Linked DNA regions of Homo sapiens. The protein of the gene in region 1 purifies or fractionates together with the protein of each later gene. This does not show direct contact. Each region holds a gene or a part of one and is shown in the gene's direction. Other genes may lie near its edges. The genes, in order: UCN3, HKDC1 and HERC1.

Region 1 (3,654 bases):
AGAGCCATGTGGAACCCACAGAGGGAGGCCTGAGGGTAGCTCCAGGGTTGCATCTCAGCACCCTCTAATTTTTTTAATTTATTTATTTTTTTGAGACAGAGTCTCACTCTTTCACCCAGGATGGAGTGCAGTAGCATGATCTTGGCTCACTGCAACCTCCACCTCCCAGGCTCAAGCAATTCTCCTGCCTCAGCCTTCTGGGTAGCTGGGATTACAGGCGTGTGCCACCACGCCTGGCTAATTTTTGTATTTTTAGTAGAGACAGGGTTTCACTATGTTGGCCAGGCTGGTCTCAAACTCCTGACCTCAGGTGATCCACCTGCCTCGGCCCCCCAAAGTGCTGGGATTACAGGTGTGAGCCACCCAGTCCGGCCAGCACCCTCTATTTTAGCTTACACCCACCCAGAGTCCAGGCGCCTTTCATTTGGTGAAAATCAAGAACTCATTTCATTCTCCCAGTGCTTTTCGTAGAGGGACCTCTGGCTTTCAGAAGTAGAAAAAGAAAGAAATCAGAACAAAGATTCTCGAACTCAATCCCCTGCTCTCACAGAGGAAAATAGTGAGGTCCTGGGCGGTTAGGCATGAGCTAGTGAGTGGGAGGGACAGGACTGAGTCTGGTAGTGAAAGGAAAAAAGGGATGAAGGAAGAAAGGGACAGAGAGACAAAGTTTCTCCACCACTTTCCCCCCAGTATTAACCTTTCCAAATTGGTTTTTGTTTTTTTAAACCCTTTCAGGGTTAGCAAGCCATTCGAAATAATTTCCAAGCTTTAAGATGCCTTCAAGGTATAAGGCAGCTAAAACCATGCTTCATACTCTATTTATGAAAAACAACTCATTAGGTCCTCTGTAAATGAGAAAGCTGAAGGTCTGCCTATTGAATGCAACATTTAAGGAAAGAAAAGCCCATTTTCCACAGGGACGGTTAGTGCACCCCTGGAACTCCGGGGTACAGCTCTAAGGAGTCCAGAGTCGGGTCAGAGCACGCAGAGCAGCGGTTCTCAGAGTGTGGCCCTCAGACCTCAGCATCAGCATCACGTGGGACTGTGCTAGAAATGCATGTTCTCAGGAGCATCCAGACCCAGTGACTCAGAAACTCTTGGGACGGGGCCCCGCAGGCTGTGTTTGAACCGCGCCTTCACATGAGTCCAAAGCACCTGAAAGTTGAGAACCGCTTACTTAGACTAAGGGCAAAAGGAGTCTGCACAGGTCAGGGTGGAGAGGGTAGCATGGAGCCAAAAGCTACAAGCCAGAGATACGATACAACAAGGACATTGCTCTGCAGGATCAAATGCTTGCTCAGATTTCCTGGTCTCTCTGTACATATGTGTATTGTGTATACACAACTGTGTGTGTAAAATGCACTTCTGAAAAGGTTGTGTGCAGACCAGATCTTCTCCTAAGAAGACCTGGAGATTATTCAGGTGTGGGTCAGCCTTGATTGAGCATCTGCTCAGACAAGGAGCTTTCATACACACATTGACGTTTCTCATCGAATCCTTCACTTAACCTTCATGAGGTGGTTATTGCCATCCCATTTATCAGAGAAGGAAATTGAAATTCACAGAGGTTATCGGCCCAAACCCTCAGGCAAATAAGGAAATAAGGACGAAGAAGGAATTCGAGCCTGTGTCTAACTCCAAAGCCTGTGTTGTTCTCACTTCGCCAGGCAACATGCCCAGATCTGGCTAGTTCATAGGTTTGGACTATTTAAAGCGAGGATCATGTGTTTTCTCATAAATTATGAAAAATATTAGTGCATAAAATAAGCTCTCAAAATTTTTGTAATGCAAAATAAATGGAACAAACAAAGCAAAACCTGATTTCTTAGACAAAAAAATTAAAGGAAAGAAAGGCAACAGCTGCAATGTGGAGAACCAAGGGAAGGAACAGGCTTTGACAGGAAATGTGCTGGGTAAACATTTATCCACGTGGGTGTGTGTGTATATGTGTGTGTATATGTGTGTGTGTATATGTGTGTGTGTATATGTGTGTGTATGTGTGTGTGTGTATGTGTGTGTATATGTGTGTGTATATGCGTGTGTATATGCGTGTGTATATGTGTGTATGTGTGTGTGTATGTGTGTGTATATGTGTGTGTATATGCGTGTGTATATGCGTGTGTATGTGTGTGTATATGTGTGTATATGCGTGTGTATATGCGTGTGTATATGCGTGTGTATATGTGTGTGTATGTGTGTGTATGTGTGTGTATGCGTGTGTATATGTGTGTGTATATGTGTGTGTATATGCGTGTGTATATGCGTGTGTATATGCGTGTGTATGTGTGTGTATGTGCGTGTGTGTATGCGTGTGTGTATGCGTGTGTATATGCGTGTGTATATGCGTGTGTATATGCGTGTGTGTATGCGTGTGTATATGCGTGTATGTGTGTGTATATGCGTGTGTATATGCGTGTGTATATGTGTGTGTATATGCGTGTGTATATGCGTGTATATGCGTGTGTATATGTGTGTGTATATGTGTGTGTGTATATGCGTGTGTATATGCGTGTGTATGTGTGTGTGTATATGTGTGTATATGCGTGTGTATATGTGTGTATGTGTGTGTATATGCGTGTGTATATGTGTGTGTATGTGTGTGTGTATATGCGTGTATATGTGTGTATATGTGTGTGTATATGCGTGTATATGTGTGTATATGTGTGTGTGTATGCGTGTGTATATGCGTGTATATGCGTGTGTATGTGTGTGTATATGTGTGTGTATGTGTGTGTATGTGTGTGTATGTGTGTGTGTATGTGTGTATATGTGTGTGTATATGATGTGTGTGTATATGCGTGTGTATATGTGTGTGTATATGATGTGTGTGTATATGCGTGTGTATATGCGTGTGTGTGTGTATGCGTGTGTATATGTGTGTGTGCGTGTGTGTGCGCGCGTGTGTGTGCGCGTGTGTGTGCGCGTGTGTGTGCGTGTGTATGTGTGTGTATATGCGTGTGTATATGCGTGTGTATATGCGTGTGTATATGCGTGTGTATATGTGTGTTCATGTGTATGTGTGTAAGGTGTGTGTGTGTGTATGTATGTACATGTGAGGTATGTATGTGTGTGCATATGTGTGCATATATATACGTGTGTGCATGTGTCTATATGTATGTGTGTGTATGTATGTACGTGTGAGGTGTGTATGTGTGTGCATGTGTATGGTTGTGTGTATGCATGTACATGTGAGGTATGTATGTGTGTGCATATGTGTGCATGTATATGTGTGTGCATGTGTATGTATGTGCATATGTGTACGTGTGAGGTGTGTATGTGTGCATATGTGTGCATGTATAAATATGCATGTCTATATGTATGTGTGAGGTGTGTGTGCGTGTATGTGCATGTATATATGTGTGTGCATGTGTCTATATGTATGTGTATGTACGTGTAAGGTGTGTATATGCACATGTGTGCATGTATATATGTGTGTATCTGTATGTGGGTGCATGTGTATGTGTATGTGTACCTGTTTGTATGTGTGCTTGTCTATGTTCCTGTGCGTCCTGTGTGTGTGTCTGTTTCCAGGGTAAGTGAAGCAGCGGGGACTTACAGGATCCTCCTTTAGAAAGAGACCCAGGCTCCCTTTGCTAAGGGTCAGCGCTGGTTCTGTCCATCGCTCACAGCCTAAGGCTGTCTGGTTGGGCTTGG
Region 2 (3,754 bases), about 64 Mb from region 1:
AAAGCAGGGCTGGAGAGCCAATGCCATGTATTATAGCTGGGCCCTGGAATCAAACTTCCAGGATTGACCCCTTGCTGTCCTGTTTATGGCTTTGTGATCACGTAACCTTTCTGGGCCTCAATTTTTTCATCTATAAAATAAGAGTGGGCCGGGAGCAGTGGCTCATGCCTGTAATTCCAACACTTTGGGAGGCTGAGGTGGGTAAATCGCTTGAGCCCAGGAATTCAAGACCAGCCAGGGCAACATGGCAAAACCCTATCTCTACAAAAATACAAAAATTAGCTGGGCATGGTGCCACGTGCCTGTAGCCCCAGCTACCCTGGGGATTGAGATGGGAGGATCACCTGAGCCCAGAAGGCTGATGTTGCAGCGAGTCATGATTCCACGACTGCATTCCAGCCTGGGGGATGAATGAGACCCTGTCTAAAAAATAATAATAACAAGAGTAATAAAAACAAAATGGGATTGGTAAATGCTCCATCCATGTTAGCCGCTGTTGTTAACGCTGTTGTTATTGGTTTCATTAGCCAGCCAGTGACTGTGGGAAGAGTGCAAGGTTGATTGTACCCATGTATTGGGTGCTTTCTGGGTCCTTCTCATGTCAAGTATGATGAGTGAGAAGTGAGTGAATAAAACATCTCAGTGGCCTGAGACATTTCTCTTTTTTTTCTTTTTTTGAGATGGAGTTTTGCTCTTGTCACCCAGGCTGGAGTGCAATGGCGCGATCTCGGCTCACTGCAACCTCTGCCTCCCAGGTTCAAGTGATTCTCCTGCCTCAGCCTCCCAAGTAGCTGGGATTACAGGCACCTGCCACCACTCCTGGCTAAGTTTTTTGTATTTTTAGTAGAGATGGGGTTTCACCATGTTGGCCAGGCTGGTCTCGAACTCCTGACCTCATGATCTGCCTGCCTCGGCCTCCCCAAGTGCTGCGATTGTTACAGGCGTGAGTCACTGCACCCGGCTGGACTGAGACATTTCTTATCTGTGACTTCCTTCTCTCCAGCAGTGATTCCCAGTGAGCACTGGTGACTTCAGTTCACTCTTTCTCAGGAATATTTTTTCCTGGGTCACTACCTGTGAACTAAAGATTTTCTGGCTTAACACTGTGAATAGGTAAACATTTATTGATCATTTTCTGTTAACCATGGGCTATTAGTTAAGAGATCTGATCTGTCACAAATGGAAGAATCTGCCCCAACATTCTTGAAATCCCATTGACCAGGACAATGTTTAGTTTTAGTTAGTTCAGTGCTTCTGAGGAGCAGGGGGTCACAGAGTTATGCCACTGGCATAAAAAACTAAAGAGAAAAGCCTGGGACTGGAAATTTGCAGAGCAGCTCCACCGGTTGAAAGTTGGCTTTGTTTAGTGCCCAACTTCGCAGAAGATTTTCCTCGGCTGAGTGGGCTTGGCAGAGCCCCGGCTTGAGAGGGTTGCTTAGCAATGAGATTTGGTGGCACCCAATTCTCAAGTAGTCAAGCAACCCATCAATACCCTGCTTCCCCCTCCACTAAACCTCAGCTACCATCCAGAGCCTCCTATTAGACAATCAAGTGTGTGCCAGAGGGAGGGACCAAAGGGGTGGGGTGGGGGGGAGTTTAATCATTGAACCAAGCAGGCTGGAGGTATTTAGTCCGCAACACCTCGCTCCCCAGGAGGTCTGCCAGCCTGGACTGGAAGCGTGCAACACTCCAGAGTCGTAGGAGTGAACACTGCACAGGAATCTCTGCCCATCTCAGGAGAAACCAAACTTGGGGAAAATGTTTGCGGTCCACTTGATGGCATTTTACTTCAGCAAGCTGAAGGAGGACCAGATCAAGAAGGTAAGGAGGACCCACGAAGCTGAGAGATGCCCAGCTCCTTCTTCACGGACAAAACTGATTCCCTTAAAAAAAAAATCAGAAGGGAGTGAAGAGAGCTTATTAGAAAAGATACTGGGAGCATATGACCAGTAAAAGACTCACTGAGGGAAGAGGGAGTAATTCTCCCACACTCCTGGGCATTGCATTACTGTCCTGAACCTTACACTTCACTCGGAACTTCCTGGCAGGTATTGGATGCGGAAGCGGGTGAGGAGGGTGTTTGGAAAGCTTGAAGAGGATTGTGTTTGCTGTAAGGGATGTTTGCTCGGAAAGGCCACAAAGGCGAGGAGAATCATTTTCAAAGAAGTTTTAAGAACTGTTGGAGCAGAAGGCTGGGCGCAGTGGCTCACGCCTGTAATCCTAGCACTTTAGGAGGCCGAGGTGGGCGGATTACCTGAGGTCAGGAGTTCGAGACCAGCCTGGCCAACATGGTGAAACCCCGTCTCAACTAAAAATACAAAAATTAGCTGGGTGTGGTGGCGGGCACCTGTAATCCCATCTACTCGGGAGGCTGAGGCAGGAGAATCGCTTGAACCCAGGTGGTGGAGGTTGCAGTGAGCCGAGATCGCGCCATTGCACTCCAGCCTAGGGGACAAGAGTGAGACTTCATCTAAAAAAAAAGAACTGTTGGGGCAGATCTGTTTGTTCATGTATTTGAAAGCATATAAATGTGGGCAGCAAGAAGGTGTGAGTTGCAATAGACAGTAATTGAAATATCTATTATTGGCACCTGCTATTTGCCAATGGTACACTATTCATGGTGTGCATTATTTTGTCACTTTGCTCAGGGAACTTGTCTACAAAATTCATTCCAAAGTGGGCTGGTTAAAGGTTGCCAAGGGTCAACAGGAGGGAACCAGGGTTCTTTCCAGGCAGCTAAAATGAGCCCAGTCTGCTACTCTGGCCACACCGGCTGGCTGTCACGGCCCTGGGCAAAAAGCATCTCTCAAAGTGCAGATGACAGAAGTCCTCCTAGCAGGAGGACTTAGCCAAGGTCACCAAGTATTTAGGATGGAATGAGGATTAAATCCAAGTTGGCTGACTCTTCCTTCAATGCTTTCTGCTGTGCCATGACTCCCTCCTGCTTTACAAAATGAATAAGGAGGCCAGGCACCGTGGCTCACGGCTGTAATCTGCATACACTGGGAGGCTGAGATGAGCAGATCTCATCTCAAACTTGAGGTCAGGAGTTTGAGACCAGCCTGGGCAACATGGAGCAACCCCATCTCTACAAAACATGTAAAAATTAGCCGGTCATGGTGGTGTGTGCCTACAGTCCCAACTACTCGGGAGGCTGCGGTGGCAGGATGGCTTGAGCCCGGGAGACTGCGCTACTGCACTCCAGCCTGGGTGACAGAGTGAGACCCTGTCTGAAAAAAAAAGGAAAGAAAAGAAAAAAAAAGGCCAAGGATGGTGGCTCATACCTATAATCCCAGCACTTTGGGAGGCCAAGGTGGGTGGATCACCTGAGGTCAGGAGGTTGAGACCACCCTGGCCAACATGGTGAAACCCCGTCTCTACTAAAAATTTAAAAATTAGCTGGGCGTGGTGGAGTGCGCCTGTAATCCCAACTACTCAGAAGGCTGAGGCAGGAGAATCCCTTGAACCCGGGCAGCAGAGGTTACAGTGAGCCGAGATCATGCCATTGTACTCCAGCCTGGGCAACAGAATGAGACTCCGTCTCAAAACAAAACAAAGAAAGAGAGAGAGGAAGTGTGGCCCCTTACAGCCCTCAGGTACTTGGTGGGATAAACTCCCACTAAATTCTATTCATTTAGAGAGTTGAGTTAGAGGTTGTAGCAAATTTAAAAACATTATAAAGCAATCACTTGTTGATTAGATTCAGAGCCCTCTACTGGCTACTTAAGGAGGCGCTGCCTAGGAATCCACTTTC
Region 3 (3,654 bases), on another chromosome or scaffold:
AAAGGTTCTACTGCAAGTAAAATGTAGAATCAGACCCTAGGCAGTAGTGGCCTGTGTAGAATAAACCACAGAGCCAGAGTTAAAGCAGTGCTACCTCTTTTGCAGCTATCCTTGTAGTCATGTCAGACATGACTTTTGAAATATAGTAGATGCCTTATTCTGCAGGTTCTGAAGAAATAGTTAATTATTGACATTTTTTCCTTAAAAAGTACCAGCTAATCAGAGGTAGTTCACAAATTTTATTATTTCTCATTATTTTTTACTTAGACAAAATTTAGGATATTTTGAAGTTCCATAGGCATTAAAAGCATAGCCTTTTTGGATATAAAATATCCAAAAAGCAAAGATGTCCCAGTTACTAGAAGGAATTTCGCAGATTAAATGGTGATAGCATTATTTTTTATTTAAACAAATTTATTATGTGGCATGATTTATTTTCAACCAGGATGTTTTGGTCGTGAATTGTACAGCAGAATGGGCAGCTGCCAATCATGTTTTGGCAACCTGTAGGACAGCATTGAAACAGCAGGGTGTTCTGGGATTGAACATGGCTCCCTGCATGAGAGCATTTTTGGAGCGGCTCCCCATGATGCTTCAGGAGCAGTATGCCTATGAAAAGGTAACTCATTACACTCACTCCTAGAGATACACAGATACCTGGTGCTTTGGAATGTGATTATAGCCTTGAACTTATCCCTTAAAAGCATGAGGTCTGAGGATAATAAGTGGGGCTATTTGGGCAGAATCAAATGAAGGTAAGTCATGCCTAAAAGAGTTGTTCAGCAACCCTAAGCCTATTCTTGCTTTATTTTCACCAGAGTAAAATAAAGAAACAAACACCAAGTTTGTATTACTGCTTTTCAGATTATTTATTCACTCCAAAGCTTCTTAAAATACCTATGCAGCAGAATATCTTCCCTTTTCTGACCCACACATATATCTATTTTTATATGGCTTGGCCATTCCAAAGTTGAGGGATAGGGATGGATGCGGGTATCAGACTGAATATCGTCTCCACTTATTAGATAAATCTTTGTGGAAAATTTAGTGGAAGAGCTATGTTGAATTGAGTAGGGTCATTAAATACTGGAATGAGGAATTGCAGCGTTTGAACTTGTCCAGACAGTGATCCTAAAGTAGCCTGTCTTCCAGCTTTTTGCTTTTCCTTTGATGGCTACCAGGATTCTCTTATAAAGGAGGAAAGTGAGAAGAGCAGATCTCTGTGGTTAAATAGTTACCTGCTTTTTTTTCCAATCAAGAAAAACCATGATGAAAATGTACTATATGCAGTGTGATAGCTTAGATTGGATCCTGGAGCAGAAAAGGAGTATTAATGGGAAAACTGAGGAAAACCAAATAAAGTTCTGTGGTTTAGTTAGTATTGTACCAATGTTAGTTTGTTAGTTTTGATAAATGTGCCAGGGTTGTATAAGATGTTAACATTGGATAAAGTTGGGCGAAGGGTATACAGAAATCCTCGGTACTATCTGTACAACTCACTCTAAATCTAAAATTATTTCCTAGCAAAAAGCTTAAACAGTAAACTTGAAAAATATGATTCCAGACTTTCAGACTACGGTAGGTTAATTTAGAATATTTGGCACAAACTCTTTGACATATTATATCCTTGTATTTTGTTTTAGCCTCATGTGGTTTGTGGTGACCAACTTGTTCATAGCCCCTATATGCAATGCTTGGCTTCCCTTGCTGTGGGACTTCATCTGGATCAGCTGTTGTGTAACCCTCCAGTGCCACCACACCACCAGAACTGTCTCCCTGACCCTGCATCCTGGAATCCAAATGAATGGGCCTGGTTAGAATGTTTCTCAACCACTATAAAAGCTGCCGAAGCCCTGACCAATGGAGCCCAGTTTCCAGAATCTTTTACCGTTCCAGATCTAGAACCTGTTCCAGAGGATGAACTTGTATTTCTAATGGTAAATGTACTGTGAGCTGCTATTATTTGCAGCTGAGATTTTATCATGGGTATTGGGCATGTAGCAGACCCCTAATAAGTCTTTGCTGGTATGCATGGCTAGAAGGATACCCTTAAGAGAAATGGAAAATATTTTTCTTTCAGATAGTCACTTTCAATCTGATGGCAGGCCTCCATAGTGACAGGAATTGATAATGTAAGCACTGTTGAACTCTTGTAAACCTGCCACCTCTCAATGACATAGTCCCATATTTTCTCATTTTCTTTTGTCCATAGGTACTTTGTTAGTGCTTTAGTTGTATATATCTTAGCATCTTTTCCTGGTCATCTTGTGGGTTATATGCCACATATAGATTCTAATTTATTTGGCATTTCAATCATGTCTTTAATTAGCATCAAATAAAATATAGAAGAGCATTCTAATTGTCATTTCATTCTGTTTGTATTTGAGAGTGTCTACTCTAGAAACTGTGACATAGATAAAATACCTGTTTAGACTACAGGACAGCACATGATCTAACAACCTCTTTGTATACTTAAGATTTATGTATACAAACATTTGGATAAACATTGATACAATATGAAACAGACAAATATAAATTAAGTAAAATTATGTAACTGTAGCTATGCATCACTTAATGATGGGGATATGTTCTGAGAAATGCATTGTTAGGCAATCTTGACGCTGGGAATATCATAGAGTGTATAGTACTTACACAAACCTAGATGATACAGCCTACTTGCAACAAGACTATACGGTATAGTCTGATTACTCCTAGGCTACAAACCTGTACAGAATATGACTGTATTCAATGCTCTAGGCATTTGTAACAGTGATAAGTATTTGTGTATGTAAACATAGAAGATATAATAAAAATAAGGTTTTATAATCTTAAGAGACCATCTTCACACATGCAGTTTGTTGTTGACTGAAATGTCACGTGGCACAAAAGTATACAATATTTTAATCAGAAAATGTCCTTCTAAGCCCATTTGGCCCAACTCTGTAATTTTGTAGATGAGGAAGCTGAAGCCCAGAAAGATGAAGTAATTTGCCCACAGCTACACAAAGAGTTTACAGGGGTGTGGGGTCCTCCACATGACCTTGTACCTGTGGGTGTTCAGAAAACACATGGCTAGCTTTGAATCACCAATGCCATAGTGATAGTGATAGTGAAAGTGTTTATAATAAAGGGAAATACTGACAGTGCATAAAATCAAGTTTGACATAATTATAAAACTGCTCTTAATTTATCATAATATTACCATATTCTTTTTTGGAAATAAGACTTAATGATTAGAAGAGGACTTTGTGGTTAAGAGCAGGTGCATCTTGCCTAAGCAGAATTGATCATTATGTACCCCCTGTTTTTCAGGATAACAGTAAATGGATTAACGGCATGGATGAACAAATTATGTCTTGGGCAACTTCCAGACCTGAGGTCAGTAAAGATGAAGATAACTGTATGATGGTTCTCAGTCAATGTTTTGATTCTAAATGCTTGTGTGTTTGTGCCCTGGTGTCTCCCATACAGGCTGGCACACACTTGGTACGTAGTACATGGCTGTTTGAGTGAATGGATGACTCTAATTTTGAGATGATTGTGGTTTTCTAGGACTGGCACCTGGGAGGTAAATGTGATGTCTACTTATGGGGTGCTGGTAGGCATGGACAGCTGGCAGAAGCTGGAAGAAATGTAATGGTACCTGCAGCAGCT

The links.
Region 2: the proteins of UCN3 (region 1) and HKDC1 purify together in Homo sapiens (affinity purification with mass spectrometry; one large-scale study listed by BioGRID and IntAct). This does not show direct contact.
Region 3: the proteins of UCN3 (region 1) and HERC1 purify together in Homo sapiens (affinity purification with mass spectrometry; one large-scale study listed by BioGRID and IntAct). This does not show direct contact.

Annotation. Positions count from the first base shown.
Region 1 is NC_000010.11:5,367,930-5,371,583, forward strand, and holds part of UCN3 (urocortin-3 preproprotein), read left to right. Parts: intron 1-3,654. UniProt on the Homo sapiens protein: Suppresses food intake, delays gastric emptying and decreases heat-induced edema. Might represent an endogenous ligand for maintaining homeostasis after stress.
Region 2 is NC_000010.11:69,218,678-69,222,431, forward strand, and holds the start of HKDC1 (hexokinase HKDC1), read left to right. Parts: upstream 1-1,654; 5' UTR 1,655-1,758; coding exon 1,759-1,821; intron 1,822-3,754. UniProt on the Homo sapiens protein: Catalyzes the phosphorylation of hexose to hexose 6-phosphate, although at very low level compared to other hexokinases. Has low glucose phosphorylating activity compared to other hexokinases. Involved in glucose homeostasis and hepatic lipid accumulation.
Region 3 is NC_000015.10:63,638,435-63,642,088, reverse strand, and holds part of HERC1 (probable E3 ubiquitin-protein ligase HERC1), read left to right. Parts: intron 1-445; coding exon 446-619; intron 620-1,643; coding exon 1,644-1,937; intron 1,938-3,312; coding exon 3,313-3,378; intron 3,379-3,552; coding exon 3,553-3,654. UniProt on the Homo sapiens protein: Involved in membrane trafficking via some guanine nucleotide exchange factor (GEF) activity and its ability to bind clathrin. Acts as a GEF for Arf and Rab, by exchanging bound GDP for free GTP.